Linked DNA regions of Homo sapiens. The protein of the gene in region 1 purifies or fractionates together with the protein of each later gene. This does not show direct contact. Each region holds a gene or a part of one and is shown on either strand. Other genes may lie near its edges.

Region 1 (3,652 bases):
AGACCAGCTTTGGGAGCTTCTCACACCTCCCCCACCCCTTGAATTTTTATTTTTATTATTATATTTTTGAGTGCAGTGGCACAATCTCAGCTCACTGTGACGTCTACCTCCTGGGTTCCAGCAATTCTCACACCTTAGCCACCCAAGCAACTGAGATTACAGGCGCGTGCCCCCATGCCCAGCTAATTTTTGTATTTTTAGTAGAGACAGGGTTTCACCATGTTGGCCAGGCTGGTCTCGAACTCCTGACCTCAGGTGATCCGTGCACCTCAACCTCCCCAAATGCTGGGATTACGGGCGTGAGCCACTGCTCCCAGTCCCACCCTTTGGATTTTATCACTTCACCAGAGTTAGTCACTGGGGGATTTTTTTGTGTGTGTCATCTATTGATTCAGTGAATTCTTTGCCAAATATTTATTCACAGCTAACTTTGTACTAGGCACTATGCTTAGGGCTGCATTCTGAGTAGTGAATGGGGTAGATATGGTCCCTGCTCTCACAGAGCCTATAGTCTAGAGGAGAAAGTAAACAATTAAGTAATTATAGTGAAAGTTGGTGCTTAAAGAACAACATACCATTGGATCAACTCCACAAGAACCTGGTTGATAAACCAGTTAGCAGTTTATTAACTTACACTGAGGGTACTAAGGTTGTTTGGTTAGAACACCCTGTCCTTTGGAGAGTGTTAGATAAACAAGCTTGTGCTTTTTGTGTTGCTTCCCTGTAGGTTTTGGTCCCTTGAAAAAAGTTCACTGTTGAGGTGCTGTGTTCCTTGGTCATACTGTGGTTCTGAGGCTGTACTCTTGTTATGTAGGCATGGCTTAGGTGATCCAAAATATCCCTTTGCAGCCCAGGTTATCTTTTAGAATGGGGTGGAGCCTGTGTTTGTTAGGGATTGCATTCAGCAACCAAACTACAAATGGCTTAAACAATAGGAATTTAGTTTTTCTCATGTAACAAGAAGTCCAGACCTGGACAGTTCAGGGCTTTGCTGTTTTCCTGCTCTGCCATTATTGGTATGTGGCTCTTCATAGTTACGATACTGCTGCCCCATATCTTCAGAAAAGAAGAAGGGGCAGCTTGTAGGGCAGAGTATAAAAGGTTAGTGTCGGCCAGGTCCAGTGGCTCACGCCTGTAATCCCAGCACTTTGGTAGGCTGGGGCGGGTGGATCATGTGAGGTCGGGAGTTCGAGATCAGCCTGACCAACATGGAGAAACCCCGTCTCTACTAAAAATACAAAATTAGCGGGGCGTGGTGGCACATGCCTGTAATCCCAGCTACTCGGGAGGCTGAGGCAGGAGAATCGCTTGAACCCGGGAGGCGGAGGCTGCCTTGAGCCGACATCGCGCCATTGCATTCCAGCCTGGGCAACAAGAGCGAAACTCCATCTCATAAAAAAAGGTTAGTGTCAGCTGAGTTTGAGTCCCCTCCTCTATTTTTTTTCCTTTTATTCTGAGAAAAATGCCTTTTCTTTTTCCTTTTTTTTTTTTTTTTTTTGAGAGGGAGTTTTTTTGTGGTAGAATTCTGGCCACTGAGATATAAGTAGAAGTTTACTGAGGAGGCCTTTAGAAAAAGTATTTCTCTCGACTGGGCACAGTGGCTTACGCCTGTAATCCCAGCACTTTGGGAGACTGAGGTGGGAGGATCACCTAAGGTCAGGAGTTCGAGACCAGCCTGGCCAACATGGCGAAACCCCATCTCTACTAAAAATACAAAAATTAGCTGGGTGTGGTGGCAGGCGCCTGTAATCCCAGCAAGCAATTCTCCCGCCTCAGCCTCCCGAGTAGCTGGGACTGCAGGCGCGTGCCACCACACCCGGCTAATTTTTGTATTTTTAGTAGAGACCAGGTTTCACCATGTTCGCCAGGCTGGTCTCGAACTTCTGACCTCAGGTGATCCGCCTACCTCGGCCTCTCAAAGTGCTGGGATTACAGGTGTGAACTACTGTGCCTGGCCTAATTTTTTGTATTTTTAGTAGAGACAGGATTTCTCCATGTTGGCCATGCTGGTCTTGAACTCCTGGCCTCAAGTGATCTGCCCACCTCAGCCACGCAAACTGCTGGGATTACAGGCGTAAGCCACTGTGCTCCGCCTAATGATTAACATTTTTATTGAGGAACTACTATGCATCAATTGTGTGCTAAGCACATTATGTACACTTGCATCTAATCTCCACAACATTCTCTTAAGGGAAATGGTCAGTAGGCAGTTGGAGATTTGGGAGTTTAAGACACTGCTTGTGAGGCAGTTACAAGTTACTTAACCTCTTTGAGTTTCAGTTTCTTAATTTGTAAAATGGAAATAATAATACATACTTCGTAGGTGTCTTATGAGCCTCAGACATCGTTTGTGTGAACTGCTTAGTTTATAATAAGCCCTCAACAAATAGTAACTCTAGCTATGGATGGTGGTGTTGAGAGGACAAAAATGGCAAGGACACAGGCTCCTTATTTTTATTTATTTATTTATTTGAGATGGAGTTTTGCCCTTGTTGCCCAGGCTGGAATGCAGTGGCGCGAACTTGGCTTGGGGCGATCTCAGCTCACCGCAAACTCTGGCTCCCGGGTTCAAGTGATTCTCCTGCCTCAGCCTCCCGAGTAGCTGGGATTACAGGCATGCGCCACCGCGCCTGGCTAATTTTGTATTTTTAGTAGAGATGGGGTTTCTCCATGTTGCTGGTCTGGAATTCCCGACCTCAGGTGATCCGCCTGCCTCGGCCTCCCAAAGTGCTGGGATTACAGGCTGGGATTACAGGCGTGCGCCACCGTGCCAGGCCTGTTTATTTATTTTTGAGGTGGAGTCTCATTCTGTCTCCCAGGCTGGAGTGCAGTGGCACGATCTTGGCTCACTGCAACCTCTGCCTCCTGAGTAGCTGGGTTTACAGGCGCCTGCCACCATGCCCGGCTAATTTTTGTATTTTTAGTAGAGACGGGTTTCACCATGTTGGCCAGGCTGGTCTGGAACTCCTGGCGTCACATGATCTGTCCGCCTCAGCCTCCCAGGGTGCTGGGATTACATGCATGAGCTACCACGCCCAGCTGACACAGTCTTCTGAATCTGCCAGTCCTGCCCTCCCTGATGCCTTCTGTGAGGTTTTGGAGAAAAATAGGAGCACAGACAGGCCCAGTGAAAGAGACTCTTAATTTCCATCTGGGGCTTTGGTTACAAACTTGGTGGTGTACTGCAGTCTGGTAAACTGTGGTTTATTAGAGTCAGAAGACTGGCCTGGGCAGGTCCAAGTAGCTACCTTTGTCCTTGGCCTCACTTCAGTTCTTTGCTGTGTTTGGCATAGGGGTAGAAGTAAGTCTGCGCATGGTGATGTGCCCCTATCATCCCAGCTACTGAGGAGGCTGAGGCGGGAGGTTCGCTTGAGCCCAGGAATTCAAAGCTACAGTGAGCTATAATCACATCACTGCACTCCAGTCTTGGTGACAGAGCAAAATCCTGTCTTTAAAAAAAGAAGGGTGTGGCCGGGCCAGGTGGCTCACACCTGTAATCCCAGCACTTTGGGAGGCTGAGGTGGTTAGATCACCTGAGGTCAGGAGTTTGAGACCAGCCTGGCCAACATGGTGAAACCGTCTCTACTAAAAATACAAAAAAATTAGCTGGGCGTAGTGGCAGATTCCTGTAATCCCAGCTATTCAGGAGACT
Region 2 (3,652 bases), on another chromosome or scaffold:
AAAGTCCATTCAGCAAATACATACCATGTGACTGCTGTCGTACCAGGCATCCATGTTAGGCTGTAGTATAGCAGTGAGCAAAAACGTATTATTCCTGCCTTCATGTAGCTGACAGCTAAGTTTCATATTTTTTGACTGATTTAATTAATATTTCAGATTGTAATGTATGCTGTGAAAATTCTGTGCTGAGCTCCTATTTATTCATTGAACATTTGTTGGAGGCCCTTCATTTTTTTCTTCAATGAAAATGACCCTGCTGGGGTTATTGCCAAGCTAGGAAAGGGTCCCTACTTTTTGAGCCCTCAGACTGAGGCAAGCAAAACTAGTGATTACAGAAAACAAAGTGCTTTAAAGTAGCAATGGCTGGTGTTTACCGAATGCTTTTTGGTGTTTACTGAATGCTTTCTGCATGTCAGGCACTCTTCTAAGCACTTTACAAGTATTGTTGCAATTTTCCCAAAAAATTGCATAAACAATTGGATAGATACTATTATTCTAAATGAGGTGAAGTCGCTTGTCCAAATTCACACAGTTGTCTGCCCCTACTGTCCCTTATGTGAACAGCAGGGCCCTGAGAGAGCAAAGGAGTTGGTGTTACAGGACCAGTCTAGATAGAGGGTTCAGGGGCGGCTCAGTCTGGAGGCACCAAGCACTGTTCCCAGCTTCTGGATGTGCCATTCCGGTCCCCTGAGACAGGTCCCTGATTTCCCTTCCCTCCTGGACCTCAGGCTCCTCCTACTTGCTCTAAGACCACACCTTGACCTCGCCCCTTTTTTCTCCATCCCTCAGCAAGCGAGACATTGAGTTGCTGCTGAAACTCATTGCAAACCTCAACATGCTCTTGAGGGACGAGAATGTGAACGTGGTGAAGAAGGCTATCCTCACCATGACCCAGCTCTACAAGGTGGCCCTGCAGGTGAGAGCGCCCTCCCCACCCAGGGCCATCCTGCCTGATATGTCTCGTTGACAAACTAATATGTTGGGGTTCAAAACCAGCATCCGAGCATACTCTTTATGGGCAAGATGTGCCACTGGTCTGTGGGAACAGATAACATGGAGAGCTAACGTTGTCTCCTAGGTCAGGAAGTTGCACTTAACCTTCATTCCTTCCATTGACCATCCGTTTATTCACTCAACAGACATTCCCTGAGTATGTCCTCTGTGCTTAGCCCTGGGCTAGGTGATGCTGGGGACACAGCAGTGACCAAGACAGCTTACTGCCTTCACAGTGCTCATAACCCAAGGAGGGAGGTAGACCTTAATTAATGAATCACATAAATATTGATTATGGAGTGTGATAGGAAAAGAACACTCTATGGTGTGATGTACATTAGCATTAATAAAACGAATGAATCCATTTAATCACCACCACCTTGTGAAGTCAGCACTGTTAGTCCTTTACCCTGAAGATGTGTGCCTTCATCACACTGAGTGGTCACTCTCTGCATCCCCATGAGGGCAGGGCGAGGCCTGGCCACTACTCAGTCCTGTCTCCAGCATCACCGAGCACTGGGCTGGGGCAGAGTTGGAACTCAGTAACTGTTAACCAAATGAATGTATTCATCATTCATGGTTCTCTGGGTATTGGCAGAGGGTGTTGGTGATTGATGCGTTGTCTTCACCTCTTTGTGTGTCTCTTCCATTCCTTCCTGGCCTGCTGGCAGTGGATGGTAAAGTCACGGGTCATTAGCGAGCTACAGGAGGCCTGCTGGGACATGGTATCTGCCATGGCGGGGGACATCATCCTGCTATTGGACTCTGACAATGACGGCATCCGCACCCACGCCATCAAGTTTGTGGAGGGCCTCATTGTCACCCTGTCACCCCGCATGGCTGACTCAGAGATACCCCGACGCCAGGAGCATGATATCAGCCTGGACCGCATCCCTCGTGACCACCCCTACATCCAGTACAGTGAGTACTGCCTTCAGCTGCCACCCCTGACAGCCCTGCACCAGTTTCCTCTCCTTCACGCCCCTCCCTCTCTCCCCCTTGTCTTTTTTGGTTTTAAATTTCTGGAACAGTGTGTGCAGTAGTTAAGATCCCTGGTGCTAGGTTCAGATCCCAGCTGCACTGCTTACTCATCATGAACTTGGGCAAGTTACCTGTCTCTGTACTTCATTTTCTTTTTTGTAAATTGGAGACGATAACATAGTACCACTCTCACAGGTTTGTAGTGAAGTTCCATGAGTGTGAGCCAGTCGATGCTAGCTAGTTTTATGGTTTTCTTTTTTTTTTTTTTGAGATGGAGTCTTCCTCTGTCGCCCAGGCTGGAGTGCAATGGCACAATCTCAGCTCACTGCAACCTCCGCCTTCCGGGTTCAAGAGATTCTTCTGCCTCAGCCTCCAAAGTAGCTGGGGCTACAGGCTCCCGCCACCATACCTGGCCAATTTTTTTAAAAATTATTTTTAGTAGAAGCAGGGTTTCACCATATTGGCCAAGCTGGTATCGAACTCCTGACCTTGTGATCCGCCCGCCTTGGCCTCCCAAAGTGCTGGGATTACGGGCTTGAGCCACCGCGCCGGGCAGTTTTACAGTTTTCTTAACTGCAAATTATAAAAGTAGGACATAGGCCAGGTGTGGTGGCTCATGCTTATAGTCCCAGCATTTTGAGAGGCCAAGGCAGGCAGATCACTTGGGGTCAGGAGTTCGAGACCACCCTGGCCAACATGGTGAAACCCCTTATCTACTGAAAATACAAAAATTAGCCGGGCATGGTGGCGGGCACCTGTAATCCCAGCTACTTGGGAGGCTGAGGCACGAGAATCGCTTGAACCCAGGAGGCAGAGGTTGCAGTGAGCTGAGACTGTGCCACTGCACTCCAGCCTGGGTGACAGAATGAGACTGTCTCAAAAAAAAAAAAAGTACTATATATACACTTGGTGTCAAGCAATATGGGTGAATCAAAAGGAATAATGTCCCCTCCCTCAGTCCTGCTTTCCAGAGATAAACACTGTTAAGAGTATTATGTTTCCTTTCAGATCTTTCCTGTGCACATGTAGGTATTTGTATGTGTATATGCATAGTGTCTGCATTTGTTTGCTTTTCTGTTTGCAAAAATGAGGCCATGCTTTGTGTTTTCATCTCAGAGACATTATAGTAGCTTGTGTCTGACACACAGCCTATTTTCCCTTGTCTCTGAGCCTGATTCCTCATTGGTAAATTGGGGATCGTTATTATGGCATCTAATTTAGGATGTAGGTATGAGCATTTGGTGTATTAATATGGCTGGAATAGTAAACATTCCATAAATATTAACTATTCTTATGTATTGTTTGACAGCCTTTTTGACTTAATAGTATCAGTGACGTCCTTCCCTGTGAGAATCATATAGTTGCTATACCATATTCCATAGTATAGTTACATTACATTCTATTAAGCAATGCTCTGTTGATGGTCATTTAGATTTTTAATTCACTTTTATTTTTTGAGACGGAGTCTCGCTCTTTCACCCAGGCTGGAGTGCAGTAGCGCTATCTCGGCTCACTGCATGCTCCGCCTCCCGTGTTCACGCCATTCTCCTGCCTCAGCCTCCCGAGTAGCTGGGACCACAGGTGCCCGCCACCACGCCCGGCTAATTTTTTGTATTTTTAGTAGAGACAGGGTTTCACTGTGTTAGCCAGGATGGTCTTGATCTCCTGACCTCGTGAT

What was found.
Region 2: the proteins of TUT1 (region 1) and SYMPK purify together in Homo sapiens (co-immunoprecipitation; one study listed by IntAct). This does not show direct contact.

The regions. Positions count from the first base shown.
Region 1 is NC_000011.10:62,584,939-62,588,590, reverse strand, and holds part of TUT1 (speckle targeted PIP5K1A-regulated poly(A) polymerase), read left to right. Parts: intron 1-3,652. UniProt on the Homo sapiens protein: Poly(A) polymerase that creates the 3'-poly(A) tail of specific pre-mRNAs. Localizes to nuclear speckles together with PIP5K1A and mediates polyadenylation of a select set of mRNAs, such as HMOX1.
Region 2 is NC_000019.10:45,846,014-45,849,665, reverse strand, and holds part of SYMPK (symplekin), read left to right. Parts: intron 1-789; coding exon 790-916; intron 917-1,664; coding exon 1,665-1,914; intron 1,915-3,652. UniProt on the Homo sapiens protein: Scaffold protein that functions as a component of a multimolecular complex involved in histone mRNA 3'-end processing. Specific component of the tight junction (TJ) plaque, but might not be an exclusively junctional component. May have a house-keeping rule.